3 linked regions of the Homo sapiens genome follow. The protein of the gene in region 3 purifies or fractionates together with the protein of the main gene of each other region. This does not show direct contact. Each region holds a gene or a part of one and is shown on either strand. Other genes may lie near its edges.

Evidence for each region.
Region 1: the proteins of ST6GAL1 (region 3) and ERGIC2 purify together in Homo sapiens (affinity purification with mass spectrometry; 2 studies listed by BioGRID and IntAct, with this or other methods). This does not show direct contact.
Region 2: the proteins of ST6GAL1 (region 3) and SAAL1 purify together in Homo sapiens (affinity purification with mass spectrometry; 2 studies listed by BioGRID and IntAct, with this or other methods). This does not show direct contact.

What each region holds. Positions count from the first base shown.
Region 1 is NC_000012.12:29,379,300-29,383,052, forward strand, and holds the start of ERGIC2 (endoplasmic reticulum-Golgi intermediate compartment protein 2), read right to left. Parts: upstream 1,874-3,753; 5' UTR 1,816-1,873; exon of another isoform or gene 1,170-1,815; intron 1-1,169. UniProt on the Homo sapiens protein: Possible role in transport between endoplasmic reticulum and Golgi.
Region 2 is NC_000011.10:18,085,372-18,089,124, reverse strand, and holds part of SAAL1 (protein SAAL1), read left to right. Parts: intron 1-1,899; coding exon 1,900-1,982; intron 1,983-2,070; coding exon 2,071-2,259; intron 2,260-3,753. UniProt on the Homo sapiens protein: Plays a role in promoting the proliferation of synovial fibroblasts in response to pro-inflammatory stimuli.
Region 3 is NC_000003.12:187,073,389-187,077,141, reverse strand, and holds part of ST6GAL1 (beta-galactoside alpha-2,6-sialyltransferase 1), read right to left. Parts: intron 2,984-3,753; coding exon 2,809-2,983; intron 1,581-2,808; coding exon 1,339-1,580; 3' UTR 1-1,338. UniProt on the Homo sapiens protein: Transfers sialic acid from CMP-sialic acid to galactose-containing acceptor substrates. In B lymphocytes, generates neuraminidase-sensitive lymphocyte cell-surface differentiation antigens, such as CDw75, HB-6 and CD76.

The sequences.
Region 1 (3,753 bases), on a different chromosome or scaffold from region 3:
AATAAGGCACTCAGAGGGTAGATCTGAGCCACACTACAACGTGACTATATAGAGCAATAGAAAGGAAGAACTTATGCTTTAGTCATTAAAAGAGGATAATAATTTAAGAAAACAAGCAACTGGATAATGGGAGTTTAAGGACACATTAACCACACCAATCAGAGTGTTTAATCAATCTGGAGTTCAGAAAGATATTATTTTAAACAATATCTTCTTCAGTCTACATTTTGACTAAGTAACAAGGCAACATTTGTAACTACAGATGTTAGAAAATGAAAATAAAAAATAACAAGAGCTAACATGCATTGAGTGTTTACTGTGTGCCAGGTATTGTTCTAAATGCTTTGTATGTTTCAACACATTCAATCCTCACAACCTTCCTATGAGTTAAGTATCATTATTTCATTTGGCCGATGAAGGAACTAAGGCACAGAGAGGTTAAATAATTTGACCACTATGACATTAAGAGGCAGAATTACAATAAATATTGGGAAACTATTAAATAGGATTTTTAGCAGGCACTGACTGCCTAAAAGTAACTTCTGGTAAAGAAAAAAAAAATAGCCATTTCTTTCACTTAAATCATCAATCCCCAAAGAAAGAAAATGTGTGGGTGGTTGTTGTTGTTTCCCTAACTCTCGTTGTTCCAGACTAGGCCTGATTTCCTTTGAGAGATCTTTCAAACTTGATATATTTTTATGATTTGTACCAGGAAGCCATTATAACACGCAACTGTATACTAAAGTTCACCATCATTTAAAAAAAAAAAAAAAATCCTCCTCTCTCTATCCATCCCTGCACCGCCAACCCCCACCCTCCCAAAAAATCAGAATTTTTTTCCTCATGTTTTCCACTAGAACTGGCATAATTACAACAACTTAAAGATATCAACAAACAAATTAGGTAAATAACCATGTCTTTTTTCAGTGAACAAGCCAGGCTCATTCTTTATAATTGCTGTATACTGGAGTCCAATGTATCAGGCTAGGCAATTAACTGAAATACTGAATTACAACTTCAAATGAATAAATCCTGTTTTTAACTGTAACTTTCATTGCTTCTGAAAACCAGTCTGGCAACATTTTAACAGCTATTATGCCACTTTGTCTTTAAGTCTCGGGGGCACTAAAATATAAAAGTTATTTAAACGTGTTTTCTCAAACAATGACCTGTCAACTCTATATACTACAGATAAACAAGGCTATTCTCCACCACGAGTTGACACGTTGCCTTCGGAAGGTTTCCTGCGCCGAGGAAAAGTAGTGACAGTCGAACCTGTCTCTCAGCATCTCGCCCTCCCCCGCCCCCTTCTCATTTTCCGAAGCACTGTGCGAAACTCCTTCCGGGCAAGGCCAAGACTCTTAAAGAGACAGAGGGCAACGTGCTGCCACGAATGTGGCATTTGTCTGAATGGGGGTAGGGAGTCTGACATCCGGGAGGACTGGGACTCGACCGATTGGGATCCTACTCGCCTGCGGACTGGAGAAACCACCTGGGAACCGGGCACTGTGACAAGCAAAGGGTCAGAATCAGGTGCGATCGAGGAAGCACCTGAACTCCTTCGAGTTGCAGGATAGCACACAAGCACCCGGACCTGGCAAAGGGAAGCTCCCAGTAGCATCGTTGCCTAGGGTCCTGCCAGTAACGCCCCCGTGGGAGGTGGAGCGGCTTCTCCGTCCGACCGGCTCTCTAGAGATCAATGAAGACAGGAAGCCAAGCCCATGACAGGCTCCCAGTTCCCTCAATTGCATTTACGCCCTAAACAGCCCTGGAACAACCGAGGGAACAGCACCCAGCGGTGTTTCAGTATTTTACCTTGTGTTATGGTCCCAGCCTACCGCCATGTTTCACAGAAGCCCGGGTCGCCGGGGCTCCCGCGTACCCGGAAATATCGCGAGAACAAAAGCGACTATCACAGCTGAAAACGTCAGAAAAGAGACAATGTACAGATCTCGCGATATTCCCTTTGCTTACGACGTGCTTAGGGAATGAAGAGGCGTGGTTAAGATAAAAGAGGCGTGCCTACAGGGAAATGAGGTTGCAACTTGTTTTAGGTGTAATCGCGCCGCCAGTCCGGTTCTGTTTCTATGGGAAGGGAGGGGTTACTTTCCGACTAACACTGAGACTGCAGAACGAATCTCAGCTCCTCACACCGTATTTCATTACTAATAAGAGCCTTGGGCGCAGAAATTATCCCTAACAACCCTAATGCATATCACCTGTGCAATTGTTTTGTTTCCCTCTTTCAGTTTTTGTGTCGTTTTCCCCTGACAAGAACATTTGAGCTTCCTTTTCCGCCATAGGTAACGCTTTTTATTATTTGATCAGCGTTTTTATTGTCTTCCAGGTTTTAATATCATAAGAAAGCACATATGTCTTCCTCATCTCCCTTCGCCAACACCAACTATGCCTTCAAATATTTGTTAAGAAAGAAAATTAATACCTCATCTTTTTCTACCACTTCATAGAACAGGAGTTAATAGACGGAACTTCGGAAAGAAAAGTTAAATGTGAACTCCTGGAGAGTAAACCCATTCCAGGTTCCTTTTCACCCATCTGTTACCAGATTTTATAATCAAACATTGAGATTTAAATTTTCTGATTCATTGACCTAGAAGTCTAACAACGGCATAATTATGACAACTGCTTATAATTACTGTTTAAAGGCTTTAACTGCTTTTTTAAAAAATCTGCGTATCCTCACAACACTCTTAGAAGATAATACCAGTATTTACCTGTTTTATAAATACGGAATTTGAGTCAAGGGGTAGTGAAGTGATTTACCCAAATTCAGACCGCTGGGAGAGTCAGGGAAATCTTGATCACAATACTAAACTGTGCCTCAAAGGAAAAAAATCACATTGTTTTATGTAGTGAATTAACCTTTACTGAAATACTAAATTTCACTAAATTGAATATCCCCCAAAATAAGGACTGATGAAAAGTTTCCAATGAATCAATTTTATTTTCAGACTTTCAGAGTTAGTCTAATTAAATCAATTTAAAGTTCTCACTTTCTTGACATGCTTAAGAAGTATAGTGTAGTGGGTGAAATCATAGACACTGGAGACAGGACTTCCTGGGTTAGAATTCCAGATCAGCAACTTACTAGCATGTAACCTTGACCACATTATTTCATCTCTTTGTGTCTCCATTTGCTCATCTGTAAAATGGGCATGATAATATCTCAGAGTTGTTACGAGGATTAAGTAAATTAATATACATCTAAAATGCCTTTTTTTAATCTTTGCCGTAAAGGCATCAGCAACTCTTCCTTCTTTGTGAATATGGGCTCTTGCTTGGATGGAGGCTGGCTGTTGTTCACTTAGTTACATCTGATCCCTCATCTCCTGGATAACCTACTTTCAGGGTAACAACTATCCCATGAGAGTTGGATTTCCCAGTGTAGCAAAACTGACTAATTTGATCCTTCTTATTTAGAAAACAACTCACCATTTTCTAATCTACCCAGTGAAGAGGGAACTTAATTTCCCCTGAAGATTGAAACTCTCGGGCTGCAGCTAAAGCCGCATTCTTTTCATTAAAGGCCAGGGTTTGATCTAACAGTAGCACGACATCTCTGCAAGCGAGGTCAAAGGTTTGCCCTAGACCCTGTAGGACATCTATGTACCTATCAGGATCATCTTTAAAAAGAGATAGATACTTAATCTTGTGTTATCAGTGGCGTTATGTCTGAAAAACAATTTGCTTTAAAAAGTCCATTATGTATTACCCGCATAAGATAGGTTTTAG
Region 2 (3,753 bases), on a different chromosome or scaffold from region 3:
ACTCAACATTAACTGTGGTTTCTGTCTTACCATATTTTATGTAATTTAAATCAAAGAGAAAACATTTTCTTGTGCTTTATTTTACATTGAACATTTAACAACTTCATTAACGTTGCACATCATTTGCTTTTTTTTGCTCCTTGTGTTTATATGCCAGTCTTCAATAAGTGACCGATGTTGGGACTCTGATGTCTTGCCAAGAGTGATTACTAAGCCTTACAGGTCATTAAAACTGTTTATTGCTAATCACTAGAAAATTAATTTTTAAATTGATCTGCTTAGTGTTTTTCTTAGTGCATTCTTAGTGCTGAGTAAGCCACATCAAAACCTATTAATTTTGTGTCCTTTATCCAAGTGAGGGATAAATTCATCATCTTTCCCTAAACCTGCTTCATCAGTATTCTCAATCTCAGTAAATGATGTAATCATTATCCTATTTGGATAATGTAGAAGAAATGGAGAAGCCAATTACTGAATCTTTCCTGCCCCAGTATTTTCCCATTGCAGTCAACTCCCAACCCTTATTCCTGACATTTTCTGGGATTCCATCCATGCCAATCAAGCCATTATTGTTTCTCATCTGGAGAACTGCCACATTCTTTTACTTGAATTCCCTGCCTCTATGCTTGCTCTTCCCAAGCCTAGACTTTAAAGCTGTTTTTGCAAAGTACGCACTCATTTCACTCTCATGCTTCGGTCTTTTCAGTTGCCTTCCTTAGGATAAGGTCCAGAAAAACAAACAAACAAACACAGCTTGGGTACTACATACATCACCTGGGTGATGGGACCATCCATATTCCCAAACCTCAGCATCATGCATGTAACAACCCCCAACATGTACCTTCTGAATCCAAAATATAAATAAATAAAATAGGGGAAAAAAGAATGAAATAAATGAAAAATTCTCAAAAAAATAAAGTACAGCTTATGGACCCAGTAGCGCTATCCTTATTCCTTGTACTCTGCGTTTCAGTCATGTGAAGTTTGCGTCACTTCTTCAACTGAACCAGGCTGTCTTGTCTCCAGGCCCTTGCACAGTATGTTTCCTCCACCTCAGACACTTCTTTGCCCCTTCATGTTTCTGTGTAAACATCATTTTTCTTAAGATACCTTCCCTGACCCTGCAAACTAAGTCTCCTTGCTTTGTGAAGTTCCTAGCCCATAGTGCTACATTAGTACCACTTTATTGTAATTACCCCACTTGGAATCTTCTTTCCTTTTAGAGTATAAAGTTTATGAAGGTAGGGATAACATCTTATACATCTGTTTTCTCAACTCCTAACATAGTGCCTGAAATTTGTAAGTACTTAAATAAACATTTGCCAAACCATTGTTTTAATTGTTCACTGTCTTTTCACTTGTTTGGTTGAAGAACTAAGATTTTGAGTTTCCAAACTATTTAGATTTTTGAGAATCCAAACGGTTGATCATAAGAATTAGACTTACATGGTTTTAGTGTTCTCAGCTAGGGAGCTAGGTTAATCCTGAGACATTTTCAGAACATCATTATTGTTGATGCGTGATGCAGCGGACCTTAACGTTCATACTATAAAAATCGCAGTCTTTTTTTGTTCTGATTATTCAAGCAAACCAAAATGATAAAGTATCAACTGGTAGGTTTCTGCGTTGTTGCTTTTATGAGATAGAGCCAAAAAGTTTTTTTACTTCTTGTCCTGTGTGTGTTGATTATATTATATAATATTTGTTTATTTTTTGCTGTTTCCCCTATTAGAATATAAAAGCTCTAACGAACACAGAGACTTCGTTCCTTTCCTTGTTTTATCCTCAGCACCTTGAACAGTGGCTGGCAGAGTAATAAATATTTATTGAATGGAGGAATGATTGGAATCCCCTGGACAGTAAAGTTGTTGATTCAGTGCTTTTACTTTTCCTATTTAGTTCTGAAAATCCAGAATGGCTTGATGTTTACATGCACATTTTACAACTGCTTACTACAGTGGATGATGGAATTCAAGCAATTGGTAAGGTGGTTTATCGGGATGCACTACAGTTACTCATTTAATTGTTTGCTGATTTTAAAGTACTGCTTTATTTGTCCTCTTTATTAAGTACATTGTCCTGACACTGGAAAAGACATTTGGAATTTACTTTTTGACCTGGTCTGCCATGAATTCTGCCAGTCTGATGATCCACCCATCATTCTTCAAGAACAGAAAACAGTGCTAGCCTCTGTTTTTTCAGTGTTGTCTGCCATCTATGCCTCACAGACTGAGCAAGAGTATCTAAAGATAGAAAAAGGCAAGTACAGTTTCCCAGGCTCATACTGTTTTTCATTTCATTTATTTCTCCCTTTTAAAAAATGCTTTCATTTCCCTAATTATAAAAACATTACATGCTAAACTTCAAAAATTTATTTTATTATCATATTTATTTATTTTATTTTTTATTGATTTTTATTTTTTGGAAACAGAGTCTTGCTGTGTTGCACAGGCTGGAGTGCAGTGGTACAATCTTGGCTCAGTGTAACCTCTGCCTCCTGGGTTCAAGTGATTCTCGTGCCTCAGCCTCCCAAGTACCTGGGATTACAGGCGCACACCACTATGCCCAGCTAATTTTTGTATTTTTTCAGTAGAGACGGGTTTTTACCGTGTTGGCCAGGCTGGGCTCGAACTCCCGACCTCAGGTGATCCACCCACCTCGGCCTCCCAAAGTGCTGGGATTACAGGCGTGAGCCACCCCACCTGGCCTGTTTACTTATTTTAAAGCCAGAGTCTTATTTTGTTGCCCAGGCTGTAGTGCAGTGGCAGGATCATAGCTCACTGCAACCTTGAATTCCTGGGCTCAGGTGATTGTCTCACCTCAGCCTCCTGAGTAGCTGGGACTACAGGCACATGACGCCACACCTGGCTAGTTTTTAAATATTTATAGAGACAGGGTCTCACAATCTTGCCCAGGCTTGTCACAAACTCCTGGGCTCAAATGACCTTCCTGCCTTGCCTTCCAGAGTGCTGGGATTACAGGCATGAGCCACTGCACCCTGCCGAAAAATTTATAAAAAATATCAAGGAAACATGATGTTTGTAATCTTACCATCCCACACATGCACATATATTTAATTCTGCTTTTTAGCCAACATTTCATTTAGAAATATAAAATGAATATTTTCCTATATAAACACATATTCTTTCACAGAATTGTTTTTATGACCACAATTAAATTCATGATTCATTTAGAATTTATTCTCGTGTCACATGTGAAGTGTGGCTTTAATTTTTTTTCCCCCTTTGATAACTTTGGTTCTAGTGGTATCAGTTTTTTCCCAGAGGGCTACCCAGTTATCTCAACATCATTTAGTGAATAATCCAGCTTACCCACACTGATTTGAAATTTCATCATTATTTTTAAAATTCCCCTATATATTCTGTTCAGTTCCATTGCTGTATTCATATATTAGTAGCCATAGTGTTTTTAAATATTAAGGTTTTATGTTTTAATACCTAATAAGGCAAATTCCTCTTCATTCTAAGTTTTCAGAATGTTTTTAACTATTTTTATCACTAACTTTGAGTTCCAAAAACAAAAAATTTCTGACATTTTTGTTGACATCGTGTTAACTTGATAGGATATGTTATGCCCTTTTATTTGTTCAGGTCTTTTTTGTGTCCCTCAGTAATGGTTTCTTCATATGGATCTTGGATATTTCTTATTAGTTTCATTCCTAGATAATTGTATCTTTTGGGTTTACTATTGTCTGTGACATATTTTCTTCCACTGATTATTATTGTTGGAATA
Region 3 (3,753 bases):
GGTGAGAATCAGTTCTGATCTCCAAGGTTCTGACCTCTGAGAGTGACGTTAAGTCCAGAGAGCCACACCACTACACCCTGAGAGACCTTCAGCAAAAGGCCCGTGAGCTCAAAGAAATTGGGGTCAGGATGCTTTTAAAGCAAAAAATGCTTTAAAAAAAAAAAACAGATGGTGGTTAGGAGAAGATTTGGGGGTAGGTATTGAAAAGGAAGAATGGGACTGGTATGTAAACCCAGCTGACAGGACAGGGTCAGGCCAGGCAGAGCCTGGAGGAATCACGTTTTGTGGCTCTGGATTGCCTGGTATCTGTCGTGAGGCTGCACTTGCTACCTCAGACATGGGTAGGAGGTTTCCTAAAAAAATATCTTGAGTCTCTAAGTTCAGGTAGATCTTAGAAAATAAACATGGGAAGAAAGAAAAACACAATTCAAACGGCTCAGATGTAATCTGCTTGCCATGTTTCTTCTCTTCCTCTAAGACTCATCTGAATGCCCCCTGTGCTATAAAGCCTTCTCTGATCCACAAACACAGTTTTAAGTGCGTGGCCCTCCTGGGTGCACAGAGAGAGCAAGCCCATCTCTCTCCAAATCCCCAGTGCACTGAGCACACTGAATCCTACCTGCCTGTTCAGATGTCTGCCTCTCTCACTGAACCGTAGCAACTTGAGGATAGACACTGTATCCTTCTCTACCTTCCATCTCCACATGGAGAGGGAAAGTGGGCTAACCAAGACCCTTTAATCATAAGCACCCAGTCTAAGGACCAGCCCAACCAGCCAGAGTGATAGGAACACGTTCCAGGGGCATGGACCTCGGGAGCAACTTTTCTCTGGAGGCGCGGAGCATGTTTCCAATCCCCTGTACCACCTACTTGCCCCCCAGAGCCACCCTGCATTGGGCACAATTGTAATTTAAGAGAATTTCTTTAAAACGTGAAATCAATATTTAGATGCAGACTTCAAGCAATATAGAGCATTGGTTTGTGAGAATGGCATCATTCTGCTGGGAAAAACAAAGCCCAGCTTTGGCAGCCCTGATGGGAGAGATAGACCTTGCATCTACCAAGGTGGAAGGCGGGGAGGATGCTGTCTGGAAAGAATGCTAGATATGTGTGCATGTGTGTGGCAGGAGGCTCTGGGCTCATAAACTGTCTGGCTACAGGGAAGGCTGGACCTGATTTCCTGACCACAGGCTCTTGAAGTCCCCATGGTCTTGCTGACAGAGGCCCCTAGAGTAAAAGGAGCAGGCTGGAATTGTTCAGGAAAATGTTCTTCCCAGGCTGGGGTGGCCAAGAGACCATTCATTTAATGCCTGATGGAGAAGAGTGAGGAGCCTGTGCTTAGCAGTGAATGGTCCGGAAGCCAGGCAGTGTGGCTTTTCCAAGCAGGTAGATGTCCTCATCTGTGCCCTGGTTGAGATGCTTCACCAAATTCTTCTCATAGAGCAGCGGGTGGTAGGCACCCATCGTGCAGGCACTATCGAAGAACTTCTGGTAGTAGTAGCACACGTCAGTCTTGCGCTTGGATGGGAGGAACTCATAAATATCCACCTGGTCACACAGCGTCATCATGATGATGATACCTGGAGAGGGGAGCAGAGGTGAGTCATGCCTGACAACCCACCCCAGCACCCCAGAGCTCTGCCCAGTGGGTTCAGCAGCTCATGACCCCAAATTTGGAGAGCTTTCCCTCTGGAGTTTCTATTTATGACTGTGATTCCCAATCTAAGTTTCAGCAAGCCAAGCCCAGCAGTGTTCCTTAGGATGCAGGGCTGTGTGAGGGTTATACACCTTTGAATCCCCAGCACCTAGGCCAGGGCCTGGTGAATAATAGATCCTCCCTAAATGCTAGTAGATTAAATGACTCCATCAATCAGCCAATGAATGTATCCATGGAATAATTTATTTGGAGAAAGAGGACAAGATTACTGAGCTGATTGAGGAGACAGTGGCATCATGTGTAGTTAGCACTTTCTAGCACTGTGACATCCTGCAGAACCTCTTGGATGGTGCTATTTGGGAGCAGATTTTTCCTTATAGCATTTGCATGAAACAGTGTTGGGGAGGGAAGACTTTTCTTCCCTTAGCTGGGCAAAGGGACAGCTGGAACAGGAGCACTCCACAGTCTGAATGATGAGATGTAGAGAAAATCCAAGAAGGGGGCCCCTGGCCAGCATTGTTCCAATAAACTCTGCACAGCACTGTTACTGATCCTATCTTTATTTAAATACTTGATATTTCACTCATCATAATTTTTACATTAATTGTGTTTTCTGAAGATACTGTAGTGAAATATTATTTATCTTGATGACTGAGTTTTTAAGGGGTACGCCCTTAAATTGTACACCTGAGAAAAGTGCCTTGCTCCCCTCGTCTGAGGTGCAGCCCCGCTCCTCATTTTCCCACCTCCCTCCCCTGTTCATAGCTTCCCTTCCCTCCATCTTCCTCTGCCAAATTCTCCCCTCTCCAAAGCCTACCGAACACTACTTCCTCCATGAGGCTATAAGCAACTGTCCAGCTAGAAGGTGTCCTCTCTCCTATGACACCAGGTTGTCTCTCCCTTCTGGCACAAATTGAATATTGCCTCAGACATCTGATTGACCTCCCCAATAGATGCCCTCAGGAAAAAGGATTCTATCTGATTTCCCTCTGTATTTTAGATAGAACTTGGCATGGTCTACAAGCAGAGCAGAATCCTAGCAATTGTTTAGTGAACAAATGAACAAACGAATGACTGAATGAGACCCCAGAAAAAAAGCTCATCTCTTCTAGAAACAAACATGCAAGGTCTTTTCCCCGACATGAACTCACCAAGCATCCCAGAGGATGGGGGGTTTGGCTGAATCTCTTCTGGGGAGATTTCTTGAAGAATGTCCCATAGCTCCCAAGGCATCTGGGGCTTGAGGATGTAAAAGGGCTGATTGGGGTGCAGCTTACGATAAGTCTTGTAGTTGTTAAAGAAATTATAATCCGGATTCTGGTACCACTGAAAAAGAAAGAAGTGGTCCTCTCAAGGGAGAAATGGGCCAGTGAGCTGCTCCCCCCAGGAGTCATCTTCATCAGTGGACATGGGGAGGGGAAAGGATCAACAAGTGTTGCTCCTGAGGCACAGCCCTTTTCTTGCAGCAGACTACAGGTTTCTCTTCCAGCCGCAGGTTTCACTGGATAGCAGGGTGGGGCCTAGCCTATAGCCTGTGCTTTGGGGGAGAGTTGAGCTTGGCGACCCAAGATCAGCTTCAGGCTTCAGGATCAGAGTCCGGGAACACTCTCAGAGCTGAAAAGAGCCCCACGTACCATCTGGCCCCATCTCTCATTTTTAAAGGGGAGAAAACTAGAGCATAGGACATCTATGGGTTCAGAGTCCTTGTCCTGACCTAGGCAAATTTGAGTTCTAAGTGAGATCAGTGCAAAACTGTTGAAAGTCAGATAGTGAGGGTGCCAGGGGTCGCCAGAGCCTGTCAGGCATTGGTAGATCCAACTTAAGAGTTAAGTGTCCCAAGATTAGTGCTCTCTGCCCTTCTCAGGCCATGCTCCTGAGGCCACAGCAGCCTGCATCAGGGAGAGGTCAACTGACATGCATTAACAGTGAGAGGACTATTCCAGAGAGGTTAGAATCCAGCAGGCCTGCCACTCATGTCTCCTTCCCCGGAAAGAGCTGCTGTTGCAGATCTGCGCCTTCTGCTTAGTAAATCAAGTCCTGGAATGGGGGACTTTCATTCTCCACATTTCAATTTCCCCATCTGTAAAATGGGAACA